3 linked regions of the Homo sapiens genome follow. Each later gene encodes a partner of the first gene's protein in a complex. Each region holds a gene or a part of one and is shown on either strand. Other genes may lie near its edges. The genes, in order: TAF11, TAF13 and TAF8.

What was found.
Region 2: TAF11 (region 1) and TAF13 share a complex: the UniProt entries of both Homo sapiens proteins name them as parts of the TFIID basal transcription factor complex.
Region 3: TAF11 (region 1) and TAF8 share a complex: the UniProt entries of both Homo sapiens proteins name them as parts of the TFIID basal transcription factor complex.

What each region holds. Positions count from the first base shown.
Region 1 is NC_000006.12:34,885,243-34,889,326, reverse strand, and holds the start of TAF11 (transcription initiation factor TFIID subunit 11), read left to right. Parts: upstream 1-1,284; 5' UTR 1,285-1,369; coding exon 1,370-1,540; intron 1,541-3,295; exon of another isoform or gene 3,296-4,084. UniProt on the Homo sapiens protein: The TFIID basal transcription factor complex plays a major role in the initiation of RNA polymerase II (Pol II)-dependent transcription.
Region 2 is NC_000001.11:109,065,780-109,069,503, forward strand, and holds part of TAF13 (transcription initiation factor TFIID subunit 13), read right to left. Parts: intron 454-3,724; coding exon 356-453; intron 1-355. UniProt on the Homo sapiens protein: The TFIID basal transcription factor complex plays a major role in the initiation of RNA polymerase II (Pol II)-dependent transcription.
Region 3 is NC_000006.12:42,056,996-42,060,719, reverse strand, and holds part of TAF8 (transcription initiation factor TFIID subunit 8), read right to left. Parts: intron 3,332-3,724; coding exon 3,207-3,331; intron 1-3,206. UniProt on the Homo sapiens protein: The TFIID basal transcription factor complex plays a major role in the initiation of RNA polymerase II (Pol II)-dependent transcription.

The sequences.
Region 1 (4,084 bases):
CCGGGCAACGCACCCCCCAAACCGGCTGGGGACACCACCCCCTCCCTGCCTTTTCCCCACGAGCGCGTCACTTCCGGGATCCGGCGTCACGCGTCACCGCGCCCCCGCGCCCCGCCCCCTAGCTCACCTAGCTGGGCGGGGCTCCGCGGACCAGCGCAGGTGGACTTTGCTGTGCCGAGACACGCCTCTCGGGGCATGGGGACAGCGCCTTGTGGGCCCCCATTATGCAGGTGGAAAGGGACAAACAGGCCCACCTGTACGCGCCTCCCGAAGTGCGCTCCTTCCCCAAAGGTTTTGGGAGCTCCTGGGACAGGAAATACGGTAATTCGTCCAGGCAGCGTAGAAACAAAGAGATAAATGTAACGCGCACCTACATTTCCAAGTCCATTCTTTCAGCACGCATAAATTAAATATGTAATAGGTGCGGGGACCTAGTCATACCCAGGTGAATAAAACGCCCTCCCCCTCGTATCTCAATGAGGGAAGAGAAGAAAATTTTAAAACAGAAATATCCTCACCACTTCATCCTCCCAGTACGTGAACTAGTTCATTAAAGTGAAACGTTCAAAGGAGACACCTTCCTCTCTTTAGGCTTTCCTCTTAGTTTTAATGAGATTAACCAAACTGATAGAAAAGTGTCAGACTTGTAAAAACAAACCTCAATCTTCAGTACTGGCGAACTGAAAAAAATCATTTAATTGGGTAGAAACTATGTGTGTTTTGTTCCCTGGTACTAGCACTGTTTCTAAATCGAAGTAGGCAGTCAATAGTTGTGGATGAATAAATGAATTGGATAAATTCTGCTCGAGCTATATGACTTTTTGTTGTTAAGGTGCTTGCGGAATGGAGGGGAAATGCTAGCAATTCTATGTACACACAGGCCCGCGGTTTCGGGCCAGTTGAAATATACAAGGTTGAGTCCTTGCCTGAAAGTTTACCAGTCCCGGGGAGCCTCATTCCACGACACCGCCATACAACGGAACTGAGTTTTCTCCCAGTCCCCCAACTTTACTCTGAGGGGTTAACGAAGGGATTAACTGACATTGCATTTTTAGACAGGCGAAAAGGAAAAAGTTATTTAGTAAACAAAACTGCGCTCCTTCACAAGTGCTGGTTTCCTAGCGAGGAGGATCCATAGTCTGAGCTCTTTACGTCCAATTTTCCCGCTTCCCACTGTCGCCAAACCAAAGTTAAAATGAGTCCTCTAGTCCTCTACGCGCGCCTCAAAATGACCCCTCAGGAGAGCGGTAGGGGTGATGTCATCGCTGCGCGACGACAGGAAGTAAGATCCTGGCCTGTGCAGCTCGGGTTTCCGAGCTTCTGCCTCAGGCATCTCCGCGATCTCCTCTCCCCTCCAATCCTATCCGTGATGGACGATGCCCACGAGTCGCCCTCCGACAAAGGTGGAGAGACAGGGGAGTCGGATGAGACGGCCGCTGTGCCCGGGGACCCGGGGGCTACCGACACCGATGGAATCCCAGAGGAAACTGACGGAGACGCAGATGTGGACTTGAAAGAAGCTGCAGCGGAGGAAGGCGAGGTAGGAAGAGATGTACTGATGAGGCTGAAGGAATACCCAGAGATTGTGTTACTGGCTGCTCGCCGGGCTTCTGGTTAGTCCCTAACAAGTTACGAGAACTCGAACTCACCAGAATTCCCTCCAGATCGTTAATCTTGAGGGGGAAGAGAGGGGACGACCAAACAAAACTCCAGTGCTGGTTCGGTTCCAGAGGCTCAAGCACTGTTAATATTTTTAGTCTTGTCTTTAGGGATTAAAGCTACTTCTAAGGGAGTTATAATAGCCCGTTGGCTTTGGTGGTGAGGAAATTGGGATCCAATGTCACACTGAGACGTAGTGCAAGAGCTAAAACCCAGGATTCGTAGCACCCCTTTCACCGCAATATGGTTCCTCTTAGATGTTAAGACAACTTTTGTCTTTATAGGAAGGAGGGTCGATCAGACCTGTCAAAGGGAGATAGACTTTTATATCGAAAAGTCTATATCGATATAGACTTTTATATCGAACACGATTTAACCTGAGAGTCGCCCGGGCTGGAGAACAATGGCGCGATCTCTGGCCCACTGCAACCTGCGCCTCCTGGGTTCACGCGATTCTCCTGCTTCAGCCTCCCGAGTAGCTAGGATTACAGGCGCACACCACCATGCCCAGCTAATTTTTGTATTTTTAGTAGAGACGGGGTTTTACCATGTTGGCCAGGCTGGTCTGGAACTCCTGACCTCGTGATCCGCCCGCCTCGGCCTCCCAAAGTGCTAGGATTACAGGCGTGAGCCACCGCACCCGGTGATCAGGGACCCATCAATTGGGTCTGGTGTTTTTATGCTACAGAGAGTTCAGCAGTGTTGCCTAGCTGAGTATCGGTCAGGACCAGAAACTCATCGTTCTCAGGATTACATTTCTAGAAGTAGAATCTTGGGGTCTTACAGCTAGAAGGGATTTAAGAGATCGTGGGTGAACAGTAGATTAGATGGAAATAGCCTTTCAGAGCATAAAGTTGCATCAAAATGTATAAAGTACAAACTTTTAGAAAAAGAGAAAATTTGTCTGGGCGTAGTGGCTCACGCCTGTAATCCCAGCACTTTGGGAGGCCGAGGTGGGTGGATCGCCTGATGTCAGGAGTTTGAGACCAGCCTGGCCAACATGGCGAAACCCCGTCTCTACTAAAAATACAAAAATTAGCTGGGCATGGTGGCGGGCGCCTGTAATCCCGGCTACTTAGGAGGCTGAGGCACAAGAATCGCTTGAACCTGGGAGGCGGAGATTGCAGTGAGCCGAGATCGCACCACTGCACTCCAGCTTGGGTACCAGAGACTCCGTCTCGGAAAAAAAAAAAGAAAAGAAAAGAAAGAAAAAGGAAAAGAGAACATTTGACAAAAGTATTTTAAGGCAGGTTTTTTGTTTGTTTTTTGTTTTTTGTTTTTTGTTTTGAGACCGAGTCTCGCTCTGTTGCCCAGGCTGGAGTGTGCAGTGGCGTGATCTTGGCTCACTGCAAGCTCCTTTAAGGCAGTTTTTGTTTGTTGAGACAAGGTCTCACTCTGTCACCCAGCCTGGAGTGCAGTGGCACAGTCTCTGCCTCCTGGGCTCAAGCAATCCTCTTATCCCAGCCTCCCCAGTAACTGGGACTGCAGGCATGCTGCACCACGCTCATCTAAAGTTTTTGTTTTGTTTTGTTTCGTTTTTGAGACAGAGTCTCGCTCTGCCGCCCAGGCTGGAGTGCAATGGCGCAATCTCGGCTCACTGCAACCTCCGCCTCTCAGGCTCAAGCGATTCTCCTGCCTCAGCCTCCCCAGTAGCTGGGATTACAGACACGTGCCACCGCGCCCAGCTAATTTTTGTATTTTTAGTAGAGCTGAGGTTTCACAAGTTTCACAAGTTGCCCAGCCTGGTCTTGAACTCCTGACCTCATGATCCATCCGCCTCGGCCTCCCAAAGTGCTGGGATTATAGGCATGAGCCACCGCACCCGGCCAGCTAAAGGTTTTTTAAATATTGTTTTGGTAGAGACAAGGTCTTATTATGTTGCCCAGTCTGGTCTCCAACTCGTTGGGCTCAAGCAATCCTCCTGCCTCAGCTTCCCAAAGTGCTAAGATTACAGGTGGCAGCCACCATGCCTGGCCAAGAAGGAAACTTTAAAACAGGTGTCAAGGACAGCAAGGATTTGAATAATTAGCTTAGTACACAGAGGGCTCACTACATATCTAAATTTGCACCGAACAGAGGATAAAATTATGTTGTTTCTGAAACACTTTTAAAAATCGATCATGTACCAGACCACAAAGAAAAATATGAACTCTTAAAAGTAGAAATCATAACAGGCCACATCTTGTTAATGTAATGCATTAAACTTGAAATTAACTACAAAAAGCTTCTCCCCCACCAAAAAAGAACTAACCCCCTGGAAATTTTAAACTATTTTTTAAATAGCCTTTAGACTAAAGAAATTAATAGAACACTTTATCAAAGTATATGGGATTTGGCCAAAGCTTTATTTAAAGAAAAATATATAGCCTTACATATTTTTATTAACAGCCAGAAGATATTGCAAATAAGCACCTAACTCAAGAAA
Region 2 (3,724 bases), on another chromosome or scaffold:
GGTGTGGTGATGCATGCCTGTAATCCCAGCTCCTCGGAGGCTGAGGCAGGAGAATCCCTTGAATCCGGGAGACGGAGGTTGCAGTGAGCCAAGATCGTGCCATTGCACTCCAGTCTGGGCAACAAGAACGAAACTCCATCTCAAAAAAAAAAAAAAACAAAAGGAAGAAGGGGGGATAGAATATACATGTATAACCTCCATCCTCAATGATAAATAGTAACCAATAACTTCTGCAAACAAGCACTCAAATGGATAGCTTATTTCAAAGGGATGCCATAAGTTCTAGTCTTACCTAAAGTTTAATATTTCAAATCTATTCTTCAATTAACTAAGACCAGTTAGGAAAGAATCTTACCATTTCAGTGATAAACTCTATGACAAGATCTTCAAGAATATCCACTGACTCAGTATAAGGATTCTGGTCATCCCCAAAGCCATACATCATACATCGCACTGTAAAAGAACAATCACTTACTTTTGTTTACTTTTACAGATTTAACAATTTGATACTTTAAAAAAATAAAGTAGAAATGAACCAAGTTATAGATAATATTGGTATGAAAACATATTTACATCGTATTTGTTATCTCCAAGTATGGATTCTTGTGTAAAAGGTTTAAGAACAGTCTGATGACCAACTGTTCCCACGTAGCCTCCAGCAAAACTCTTCCTTCCTCCCACCTACTGAACCCTAAGGTAAACAGTCTTTTCCTAATCTCTAGCATCTACTTACCAGTCCCTGCCCCCAGCAGAACACCTTTAAGTAGGAAACTCTGGCAAAGGACAGGACAGACAGCAACAGCTTAGCCTTTTTTGGAGGTGGTTTTTGTGTGTGGGCATGGCAGTGGGGCGTTGGAAAAACGGCAGACTCTTTACTGATATTACCATAGGGGAAAAGACATGAGAGACAGTTCTCCAAATACTTTTTTTGTTTGTTTGTTTGTTTGTTTTTCTTGAGACAGAGTCTCGCTCTGTCGCCCAAGCTGGAGTGCAGTGGCACCATCTTGGCTCACTGCAAGCTCCATCGCCTCCTGGGTTCACACCATTCTCCTGCCTCAGCCTCCCGAGTAGCTGGGACTACAGGCACCCACCACCACGCCCGGCTAATTTTTTGTATTTTTAGTAGAGAAGGGGTTTCACTGTGTTAGCCAGGATGGTCTCGATGATCTGACCTGGTGATCTGCGTGCCTCAGCCTCCCAAAGTGCTGGGATTACAGGCGTGAGCCACCGCGCCCAGCCCCAAATCTGTTCTTATAGGAAGAAACAGGGTACTCAAAATGAGAAAGCAGAGGGCTTACTACAAGGAATTTTGACATTTCCTAGATCAATACAACTGCAGCAAAGCCCTTTCAGGCTTCATCTGAAGAAACCATAGGAAATGCAAAGGATAAGTCTAGGTCGGGTGCAGTGGCCCACGCCTGTAAACCCAGCACTTTGGGAGGCCCAGGCAAGTAGACTGCTTGAGCTCAGGAGTTTGAGACAAGCCTGGGCAACATGGCGAAACCCTGTCTCTACATAAAAAACAAAAATTAGCTGGGCGTAGGCCTGGATGGTGGCTCACGCCTGTAATCCCAGCACTTCAGGAGGCTGAGGCAGATCACTTGAGGCCAGAAGTTTGAGATCAGCCTGGCCAACAAGGTGAAAACCTGTTTCTACTAAAAAAAAAAAAAAAACACAAAAGTCAGCTGGGGGTGTTGGCACATGCCTATAATCCCAGCTACTCGGGAGGCTGAGGCATGAGAATCGCTTGAATCCAGGAGGCAGAGGTTGCAGTGAGCTGAGAATGCGCCACTGCACTCCAGCCTGGGTGACAGAGGGAGGCTGTGTCTCAAAAATAATAATAATAATAAGAGAGACTGTGTCTCAAAAATAATAAGAGAGAAGTCTAATACAGACAAATAAAAATAACTGCCAAAAGATAAAACATATATAGCCCTTATTATATGCCAGGTACTGTCTTAAGTCCTTTACATATATAACTCATTTAATCCTCACAATGATCCTTTAAGGTAGAAACTATTGATTATCCCCATTCTATAGATGAGAAAATTAAAGCACTGCAGTAACTGATTTACCCAAGGTCACAAAGCTAGTAAGAGATGGAACCTGAGTTTGAACCCAGCTGATCTGGTTCGCGTCTTTACTCATACCCACAACAGCATCGCACTTGTTGGTAGTTGTAGTTTAGGGCAGACAGGATCCGTGTGAATTCTTTTTTTTGCTCTCCTTTTTTGAGACAGTCTTGGCTCTGTCGCCCAGGCTGGAGTGGTGTTGCAGTACAGCTTGCTGCAGCCTCAACCTCCCTGGCTCACGTGAGCAGCTGAGACTACAGACACATGCCACTATGCCTGGCTAATATGTGGGGTTTTTTTTGAAACAGAAGTGTCACTGTGTCACCCAGGGTGGAGTGCAATGGCACGATCTCAACTCACTGCAACCTCCACCTCCCGGATTCAAGAGATTCTCAAACTTTAGCCTCCAAGTAGCTGGGATTACAGCCATGCGCTACCACACCCAGCTAATTTTTTTGTATTTTTTAGTAGAGTCAGGGTTTTGCCACGTTGCCCAGATAGTCTTGAATTCCTGGCCTCAAGTGATCTGCCTGCCTTGGCCTCCCAAATTATTGGGATTACAGGCCTAAGCTACCACACCCAGCCATTTAAAATTTTTTCTAGAGACAGGGGTCTTGCTATGTTGCCTAGGCAGTTTTTGAACTGGTTTCTAACTATTTATTTATTTTTATTTTTTCGTAGAGACAGGGTCCCACCTTGTTGCCCAGGCTGGTCTTGAACTCCTGGACTCAAGTAATCCTCCTGCCTTGGCCTCCCAAAGTGCTAGGATTACAGGTGTGAGCCACCACACCCAGCTGAGATCCACAGAGGTTCTTATCCTATCGCCTATAAACTCCCAGTCCAGAGACAAGCTTTAAGAAGTCCTTGAAGGCCAGCGCGGTGGTTCACGCCTATAATTCCAGCACTTTGGGAGGCCAAGGTGGGCGGATCACCTGAGGTCGGGAGTTTGAGACCAGCCTGACCAACATGGTGAAACCCCGTCTCTACTAAAAATACAAAAATTAGGGGGGCGTGGTGGCACGCACCTGTAATCCCAGCTATTTGGGAGGCTGAGGCAGGAGAATAGCTTGAACCCAGGAGGCAGAGGTTGCGGAGAGCTGAGATCATGCCAATGCATTCCAACCTGGGCGAAAGAGGGAGACTCTGCCTCAAAAAATAAAAAAAGAAGTCCTTGAGACTACCCTGAAATCATACGGAAAAATTTTATACATTATCTGTACATGGGCATTTTTCTGGGAATAATTATAACTTTTATCAGATTATCAAAGGGGTATATGTAAATGGTAAGAAATGCTGTCAAATGCTGGAAGTGTTCTGTATCTTGATCTTAGTAGTGATTACAAGTGTGTGAGTGTGTGTGTGTGTGTGTGCGCACATGTATACAGTTGTCCCTTAGTATCCTTGGGAGCTTGGTTCCAGGACCTCCCGTGGATACCAAAATCTGCAGATGCTCAAATCCCAGATATAAAATGGCATAGTATTTGCATATAAGCTAAATACATCCTATGTATATTTTAAATCATCTCTAGGTTACTTACAATACCTAATACAATGTAAATGCTATGTAAATAGTTGTTATACTATACTGTTTAGGGAATAGTGACAAGGAAAAAAGTCTATACATATTCAATAGAGGCACAGTTTTTTTTTCT
Region 3 (3,724 bases), 7.2 Mb from region 1:
TTTTTTTAAAGAATCAAAGTTGACTTATATAGCCAATTAAAGCCCGTTGGGGAATCTGGCCTTATACCCCGTCCACACAGAGTCTCTGTACAAGGTTCCTGACCTGTGGTAAGTAAAGAATGTCACTTTCAAACAGGCTCAGGAACCCCAAGCTATCTTGGGACCTCAAGAGGAGACAAATTTGCCCAACTCATAGGTATTTGAGGGTACAAACCCATGGCTGGGCTCGGCTTTTAAAAAGTCTTATCTGAGATTCTTCATGGAACAGAGTTCTATCAAAGCCAATTTAAAAAGTCTAAGTGAAAAATAATTATTCTTGCTGCACTTTATGCAAATAATCGGGCCAAGTACAGTAAGACTAAAGTTTATTTTGTAAACAAATCAGTTGTATCATGATTTGTTTTTAATAAAAATGGGGACTGGAGAGAGAAAAATTATGCTTCAAAAGAAAAACTATAGTACACTGTTGTTAGCTGTTCTTGAGGTTTTTTCTGCAGTTTAGACTAAATTCTAAAGTCTTTGTGGGTTAGAAGTCCCCAAACTAGTGCTTCCAAATCTTTGCTTTTAAAATTGGGAATTGTACTCCTCATCCTAGGACTCGTTATTTACCTTATAGTGGGCTGTTTCACTTAAACACTGTAGTAAAACTACAGAGTACTAATGTTTGTGCCATGCAAGCCATGAACGCCTAGCCAGGCCTGCATGAGTACACTCAGACAGTTGCAAACCAGTTCCACTCTTCTCACCTTCGGGTTCACTCCCATTCCCATAATGTGCCCTGTCAGCAGGAAGAAGCCAGAGCAATTGATAGCCTTTTCCCATCTTCACAGCCTACACCTTAAGATTAAGGTGTTATAAAACCCAAAGGGAAGGACTGAAACCACGTTTGCAAAATTATGACTGAGACGGTGAAAGAGATCTAACTTAACTGACTCCATCTTGCTTCTAACCTCCAAGCTGTCCTTGTTCATTCCTGGGCGGAGGCTAAACTAACTTTGGGAGAAACTTAGTTTAGAGTTTAAACAAAGACAGTGACACTCCTTTTCCCAAAGAAGACCTCCATCTTGCCTGGAGACTAGATTGCCTTTGTAGGACTAACATTAGCCACAAGATTGGAAATTATGGTTTAGAAGTCATGCAGCTGGAGGCTACAAGATTCTGACCCTCCCTATACTGTTCCTAAGATCAGTGTTGAGACACCTTGCACTTGATGGATCAGCTGGCACCACCCAGATCAATAAACTGGCTCATCTGATCTTGTGGCCCCCACCCAGGAACTGACTCAGTGCAAGAAGACAGCTCTGAGTCCCTATGATTTCTTTTTTTTTTTTTTTCTTGAGACAAAGTCTCGCTCTGTCGCCCAGGCTGGAGTGCAATGGTGCAATCACGGCTCACTGCAAGCTCTGCCTCCCGGGTTCACACTATTCTCCTGCCTCAGCCTCCCAAGTAGCTAGGACTACAGGTGCCCGCCACCATGCCCGGCTGATTTTTTGTATTTTTAGTAAAGACGGGGTTTCACCATGTTGGCCAGGATGGTCTCGATCTCCTGACCTCATGATCCCCCCACCTCGGCCTCCCAAAGTGCTGGGATTACAGGCGTGAGCCACCTTGCCCGGCCCTGAGTCCCTATGGTTTCATCTCTGACCAATCAGCACTCCTGGCTCACTGGCTTCCCCCGACCTACCACATTATCCTTAAAAACTCTGCTCCCCGAATGCTGGGGAAGACTGATTTGAGTAATAATAAAACTCCAGTCTCCCCCTCTGCCCCCCAACCACACACAAAAAAGAATGCCATGTGAAGACAGAAAGCTGGAGTGATGCATCTATGAGCCAAGAAATGCCAAAGAATGCTGGCCAACCACCAGAAGCTAGGAAGAGGCAAGGAGGGACTCCCCTACAGGTTTCAGAGGGAGCATGACACCTTGCTTTTAGACTTCTAGCCTCCAGAACTGTGAGACAATAAATTTCTGTTGTTCTAAGTCACCTGGTTTGTGGCATTTTGTTACAGCAGCCCAGGAAACTAATAGAGAGATCTGACCAAGGGCAAGGGCAAGGGCTATGTTGCATTAGCTGGGCAGCTACTATTCCCTCTCCCCCACCCTAAGGTATGGAAAAATGCCCAGAGGACGTGAGGGCTTGCCATCACTATATGGTATGCAGGCAGAAGCAAAGGAAGTGTGGGAGGGCACCTTCCCAACGGAAGGTAAAACTGCCATTCAGGCAAATTAGAACACATTCAAACCACAGAGGATAATTCATCTTCTCCTCATTCAGACCTAGAGCTCAGAGTGATAAGTTCCATTTCATTATCATTACTAATTTTTATTTATTTCTTTTTGAGACAGAGTCTTGCTCTGTCGCCTAGGCTGGAGTGCAGTGGCGCAATCTCAGCTCACTGCAACCTCTGTCTCCCAGGTTAGATTCTCCTGCCTCAGCCTCCTGAGTAGCTGGAACTACAGGTATGTGCCACCACGCACAGCTAATTTTTGTAATTTTAGTAGAGATGGGGTTTCACTGTGTTGGCCAGGCTGGTCTTGAATTCCTGACCTCAGGTGATCCATCTGCCTCGGCCTTCCAAAGTGTTGGGATTAAAGGTATGAGCCACTGCTCCCGGCCATTACTAAATATTTTTAAAGTAACTTTTCCCCCAATTGAAAAAATAATTTTCCTATTATGGAAAATTTGGAAAACTCAGAAAAGTAAACACAAAACAAAATGACCTATAATCTCAACCCAAAATTACTATGAACATTTAGTGGAATACCTTTTCAGTCTTGTTCCTATGCGGCTATGTACTTTTGTGTTTTAGTAGGACAGGCAATACTGGGGCCAGCTTCAATTTCTTTGTTAATTATACTTTAGCTGGCAAACTTGAGAACATAATTCTCATTTGCCAAATTGTTTCTCAATTATGAAAGATAATCTGAATTCTTTTTTTTTTCTTTATTTATTTATTTTTCAAATGAGACAGGGTCTTGCTCTGCTGCCCAGGCTGGTCTTGAACTCCCAGGCTCAAGTGATCCTCCTGCCTCGGCCTCCTAAAATGCTGGGATTACAGGTGTGAGCCAATGTGCCCGGCCACATTCTGAGTTTTGAACCACTCTTTCATCAACAAGCTTTTGGACTGGACTCTGCCACGTGACAGTCAGTAGGAACTGACTCCGTGCTTTACACCACGCGCAGTCCCAGTGCTTCATCACTCACCGGAGTTTTGATGTAGGTGTGGGGATCAGGGAACTCAGGAAAATGGCTGGGGATGTGCGGCGGGTGGGGTCGGTTCTGCCCTGCAGTGAGGGCCTTGGGGGTCACTGGCTGATTGGTCACCGGAGCTGCAACAGAGTCACAACTGATTACCCCTCCACCCAAGACCCTGATTTCTACAGATTATGGTCTCTCCCCAAAGCCTCCTTTTCTCAAAAAAATGCCAGACCTCAATTTTCTAAACAAGTTGCATTTTGTATTTCAATCGATAAAAGGTCTTTGATGGCTTACAATGCCCAGCCCTGCTGGCTAATCTTGGTTGACGTTCCCTTTGACAACAATCTGCCCACAAGCCTCTTAGGTAGAGGTGGGTGGCTGTGGCCACAGTAACTACGTAAAACAGCATGCTGAGGAGCTACGCAGGTTACATGGGCTGCTGGTTCTCTTTTCAGAGACCTTGGATAACAAAAAGGAACAATGAGCTGGGGACATTAAGTGTGAGCTTAATCATAACAAGAGGG